Regions from separate parts of the Homo sapiens genome. Here region 2 is reported to be linked to region 1. Evidence: microRNA targets listed by miRTarBase, many of them from high-throughput screens and not tested one by one. Region 1 holds a microRNA gene; the other region holds the end of a gene's coding sequence.

The links. The annotated mature microRNA hsa-miR-4761-5p reads ACAAGGUGUGCAUGCCUGACC and lies in region 1 at 1,228-1,248, shown strand. An mRNA with a match to its seed (bases 2 to 7 or 8) in the 3' UTR can be bound and repressed. Matches are read on the target gene's strand: a 7mer-m8 pairs with bases 2 to 8, a 7mer-A1 pairs with bases 2 to 7 and ends in A, and an 8mer does both.
Region 2: miRTarBase lists TRDN as a target of hsa-miR-4761-5p. Seed matches in the 3' UTR shown: 7mer-A1 at 2,104-2,110.

Annotation. Positions count from the first base shown.
Region 1 is chr22:19,962,528-19,965,527 of GRCh38, forward strand. It overlaps MIR4761 (microRNA 4761), which reads left to right and starts at 1,226; the gene lies at 1,226-1,307. COMT (catechol-O-methyltransferase) reads left to right here. Exons shown (of 6, transcript NM_000754.4): 3 at 1-288; 4 at 1,039-1,232; 5 at 1,641-1,772. It also overlaps a transcript of ARVCF not described here. RefSeq lists enhancers at 1-282, 283-998, 999-1,714.
Region 2 is chr6:123,215,854-123,218,853 of GRCh38, reverse strand. TRDN (triadin) reads left to right here. Exons shown (of 41, transcript NM_006073.4): 41 at 114-2,515. The coding sequence ends at 253. Among named protein-coding and RNA genes, the nearest start is that of CLVS2, 220 kb to the right of the region's middle.

The sequences.
Region 1 (3,000 bases):
TGCCGGAGGCCCCGCCTCTGCTGTTGGCAGCTGTGTTGCTGGGCCTGGTGCTGCTGGTGGTGCTGCTGCTGCTTCTGAGGCACTGGGGCTGGGGCCTGTGCCTTATCGGCTGGAACGAGTTCATCCTGCAGCCCATCCACAACCTGCTCATGGGTGACACCAAGGAGCAGCGCATCCTGAACCACGTGCTGCAGCATGCGGAGCCCGGGAACGCACAGAGCGTGCTGGAGGCCATTGACACCTACTGCGAGCAGAAGGAGTGGGCCATGAACGTGGGCGACAAGAAAGGTGGGGTCCGGGCCAGCAGGTGCTCAGCTCTGGGACAGGGACCCAGGACCAGGCATCAAAGCCCTTACAGGAGAAGCTGTTATCACCCCATTTCCAGGGGGCTGGGAACCCTGGGATATGCCCAGATAGGGCTGGGGGGCTCCTCTGGAGTCCCAGGGTGCCAGGGTCCCTGATGACCCCTGCAGGCCCTGCTGCCTGCTGCCCCAGGACAACAGGCCCCCACACTCACAGGGTCTGACGGTGGTGCAGTTCCCCTTGAACTCTGTTCTGGCCACCATGGGACCTGCCTGGGGACCAGTCAGACAGGTTCTCCTGGGCCCGCCTCCCGCTTGAACTTCAGCCTGGGGCACAGGATGTGTTACCGGGCTCACGGAGTGACTCAGGGAACTAGTGCCGCCCCAGGGCCCCAAGGTGGGCGGTTCGGTGATTCAGAGAGGGCAGCTCTGTGTTAGGACACACTGGGGCCAGCCAGGAAGGGTGGAAAAGATAGGGACCAGCGTGAGCATAGAGGCTAAGGGACCATGGGAGCTCCAAGCGCGCTCACAGTGGGGACCAGGTCCTGGGGGCTGGGGACACCAGGGAGGTGAAATACCCCTCCAGCGGGTAGGGAGGGTGGGCAGAGGAGGGCCAGCGGCCAGGCATTTGGGAGGGGCTCCTGCTCTTTGGGAGAGGTGGGGGGCCGTGCCTGGGGATCCAAGTTCCCCTCTCTCCACCTGTGCTCACCTCTCCTCCGTCCCCAACCCTGCACAGGCAAGATCGTGGACGCCGTGATTCAGGAGCACCAGCCCTCCGTGCTGCTGGAGCTGGGGGCCTACTGTGGCTACTCAGCTGTGCGCATGGCCCGCCTGCTGTCACCAGGGGCGAGGCTCATCACCATCGAGATCAACCCCGACTGTGCCGCCATCACCCAGCGGATGGTGGATTTCGCTGGCGTGAAGGACAAGGTGTGCATGCCTGACCCGTTGTCAGACCTGGAAAAAGGGCCGGCTGTGGGCAGGGAGGGCATGCGCACTTTGTCCTCCCCACCAGGTGTTCACACCACGTTCACTGAAAACCCACTATCACCAGGCCCCTCAGTGCTTCCCAGCCTGGGGCTGAGGAAAGACCCCCCCAGCAGCTCAGTGAGGGTCTCACAGCTCTGGGTAAACTGCCAAGGTGGCACCAGGAGGGGCAGGGACAGAGTGGGGCCTTGTCATCCCAGAACCCTAAAGAAAACTGATGAATGCTTGTATGGGTGTGTAAAGATGGCCTCCTGTCTGTGTGGGCGTGGGCACTGACAGGCGCTGTTGTATAGGTGTGTAGGGATGGCCTCCTGTCTGTGAGGACGTGGGCACTGACAGGCGCTGTTCCAGGTCACCCTTGTGGTTGGAGCGTCCCAGGACATCATCCCCCAGCTGAAGAAGAAGTATGATGTGGACACACTGGACATGGTCTTCCTCGACCACTGGAAGGACCGGTACCTGCCGGACACGCTTCTCTTGGAGGTGAGCCCCAACCAGGATGGCATCCGTGCCAGCTGCTGCCCAGAGCCCATTCAGTCAGCCTCAGCCTCTCCAAAGAGCCAGGCATTCCAGTAGAGCCCTGTGTGGACACAGCTCGCTCTGGAGGCACCACCTGAGGTCTGGGAGTGTGGGGGACTGAGGAGGCCCTGTGGTGGGTGGAGATGGGTGGGGAGCTGGGCCAGGGGCCTGGCTGGGTGGCCTGTTGGGAACTGGGGAGCCAGCTGCCTGTGCAGGTGCAAAATGGGTGGCAGAAGTGGGGTGCACACCCCAGACCAGACACCAGGGCAGAAACGGCACAGGACCAAGGAGATGGGGTGGGGAAGGGCCGCTCTGGGCCCAGCCTGCTCTCCCCCAAGCAAGCCACTGCTCGTGCAAAGAAAGCATGTGTCTCCTGCAGATCTTCCTCCTGAGGCCCCATCTTGTGCATTCCCCCAACCCAGCCCCACTGGCGAGGACCCTGAGTGCCCCGAGTGAGGCTAGACAGCGGGTGGGGCTGTCCTCGCTTCCCTGGGGGGCGTGGGGCACTGGTGGCCCTTCACAGACTGATGCTTAAGGAGCCTCACATCAGTGACACACTGCCCCATCCCTCCCTGGTGGTCAGCGACACTGAGTGGCTCTGTGATCCTCCACTGGGCTTGGGACACCCACCCTCACGGCCTCCCCACCTGGTGCTCGCTCACCTGCAGCTCTCCCAGAAACTGGACACTGCTGTTAGCAGCCGGACTAGGAGCACGAGGGGCACAGCCCCCATGCCTGGCTAGGTAGGGCCGCTGGACCCTGGACACGGATTGGAAGGAACCAGCACTAGCAGAAGCCTGAGGTGTGAAAGGGCAGAGAATGTTCCAGGAACAATGGGAGTCAGGGCACACAGGACTTTGGGCAGGTGAGGATGAGGTTAGACCTGTCTTCTGGAGCTGGGCTCAGGGGCTCATGCCTGTAACCCTTGCACTTTGGGAGGCTACGGCAGGAGGAGCGCTTGAGGCCAGGAGAGTTCGAGACCAGCCTGGGCAACATGGCAAAAGAAAAAATATATATATATATTTTAGATGGAGTCTTGCTCTGTCACCAGGCTGGAGTGCAGTGGCACGATCACGGCTCACTGCAACCTCCACCTCTTGGGTTCAAGCGATTACCCTGCCTTAGCCTCCTGAGTAGCTGGGACTACAGGCGCGCGCTGCCACACCCGGCTAGTTTTTTGTAGTTTAGTAGA
Region 2 (3,000 bases), not on the chromosome of region 1:
TACGGAGGCTGCTGGCAGAATCTGTGACCTTATCTGCTGCACTGCACTGCCTCACTGTGCTTTTTTGCTCATGTTCTGCATGTTTTAACAAACTGTCATGCTCTGTTCCTTAGGTCCCATCAGTTTCTTCCAGTGTGTCTACTTGGATGGGTACAATGGCTATGGATTTCAGTTTCCTTTCACTCCTGCAGACCGCCCTGGAGAGAGCTCTGGTCAAGCAAATTCTCCAGGACAGAAGCAACAAGGACAGTAAACACACATGTATGACCCTTACAAGTGCTTTAAGATTTTAAAAATGTGATGTTTTGTCCACAGTAGTTCAGGCAATTAAGAATATGCAACCCAGAGAATTTCTGTGAAAACATTTTGCTCTTTGGCCTGGTGTGGACGGAAAGGGTGGCCAAATGGATTGAGTGATGAGCAGACATGTTTAAGGGTCTAAGTCTCAAGAATCTGTTATGTGTGTTTGCTGCGGTGGGAGGGGGTGCTTGTATTTATCTTATTTCCAGTCACTATAAGGTTGTACACAAACTAATTTAAAGTTTACTTAATAATGGTATCTTTAAAATAATTGACACAATTGCAAAATGAATTCCTGGCTTCAGTTAGCTATTATTTTTTTAATGACAACATAGACTGTGCTCTAAGTTTAAAAGATGGGGAAGCTTATATAAAAGTGACCCTTTTGCATCATATGGGTATCTAAACTTAATTTACCCAATAAGTTGATGCTTAATGATTTTATTTTATTTTTGTCTATTTCTATTTTAGTTGTGGCTTTGCTCTAAGAATGGGTAATAGTTGTACTACAGACTGCTATAAATTTCTTGTGATACTCTTTTAGAGCTCAAAATATCTCTGAGCTTTAGACATGGTAAGGTGGAGAGTAAATGCTTGATAAATCTTTAAGATATGTCTTGAATGATAATTAGGACATTCAGTCCAGTGGAAATACACCATTCAATTAGTCAGGTCTGGTGAATCGTTTGTTTAAAATATTAGCAAATGAGATGTGGAATTCTGAAATTTCTCCAGACTGTGTCTTAATAAAAATGTCACCTGGGTGAAATTTTAGATCAATCACTAAATTTGGGTGACAAATATAAAAATATTTTCATTTCACTTTAATACATTCTTTCTGTGAAGTAAAATGTTTTTCTTTCTCATAATGGCAAAATATGAATGCCATCAAAGTTTAAGGAATTCATTTTAGCCTTAAATGCCTTCGTGAGATGTCTTACTTGTATTTTAGGTAACTGGTCATCAGTGCCAATGACATGGATAACAATTTTTAATCTACTCGACAGTGCATCCCTGGGAATGACTGTTATGTTTTTGTCATATTCCTGGTAATATAAATACTCGTGTTCTTTACTACATTGTTTTTATCAACTCTAAAAGTCATGCCTCTGTGACCTTTATCATGTTTACAATTGCAACTGAACTTATGACAAATTAACTCAGGAAATAAATTGAGTTATCCTTTCTAGCATTGTAATTACCATCAGCAAGGCCTGAGATAGCCAGAGCCAATACTAGCCAAGTGATTTATTTTCAAGGATTGCCACTAACTACGGTTCTTTAGGACCAAGATATAAAACAGTCACTAAAAATCATTAGGCTAGGTATCAGTAATACATTCATTACTAATAATGCATTTTTGGAGACTTTTGTGAAAGAAGTTGGTCTCTGCCAAAAGCTGGTGGACCACATTCACACCACGAAAGCCAGTGTCACATGAACCAGATTAATGACTCTCTTTATGGGGTATGTGGGACATCCTGGAAGTGTATAATTTCAGGAATGACCAGACAATACCATCTTGCAAAGCCCCTTCAGGTGACAATCTAAACTTGTGGGTAGGAGAGTGCATAAAGTTTATTGCTCAACTGCTCCTCCAGCCTGCTGAATTTACTGAGTAAAGAAATAGCAAATATGATAGATGTTTTAGATTTCATAGAACAGAATGGTTTGTCCATTAATTCTTTCATTCAATGACTGTTTATTGAATACCTACTCTTTTAGGGCGCTGTGTTAGGTGCTGTATTGTACAAGAAAAATATAATAAATTAGATTCCCAGCGCTATTCTGACATAGTGAATGACCTTGAAAAATTTACTAAACATACTATGTTTGTTTCTCCATGAGTAAAATAGGGATATAGGGACAAACAGTCTAATATCTCATAGAAATACCATGGAGACAAATAAAATATTTTAATATAAATATGATATTAAAGTAAATTTCTGAAGTAATACTTTTGGGTATGGCACTAGTTTTTCCTCTGACTATTTTACTGTTTCTTTCACTCTCAATATAAAAACTATTTGATAAGATAAAACGATATATTTTATTGTAATTAGAATTTAGACAAATCAGCTATAATGTAAAAATGTTAATAATAATTACGTTTTATCTGATTAAAGTTACAATGATCATAGCACTTTAAAAATATTATCTGAACTGTCATTTGTTTATATATTACCGTCTAATAAAATAGTTATAGATCTTCCAAGTTTGATGCCTTACATTTTAAAAGGAAAAGATAAATGGTTGATTAAGAATCTTTGTCTTTAATGGTTCATTCATAATTCAAGTTATACTGGCCAGGAATATGTAAGCATTTCATAATTGTTTTAGTTATTTTGCACAATTGGTACACACTACTCCCATTACATCCCTGCGTTTACCCACCCTTCATCCCCTCTTAATAGATAAAGATCTGAAAATAAGAATCGATTTTTCCTTAGGTTTTTGATTTATATTTAGTTTTCCTAAAGCCTGATAAATCATTATTCAAATGGGGCAAGTGTTTTTTTGTTTCTTTTTTTTTTTTAATGAACCCTAGCAAAAGCACCTGTATGTTGACTCATTCTGGCATATCTTTTCAAAACCTTTTAACTTCTTGCAGAAATATTTTAGAAACTGGTATTGTGATACTGTGTATTTTAGAGATTTAACTTGTACCCTTGAGTAATTTTTCTGGAGAAAAAAGCAAAG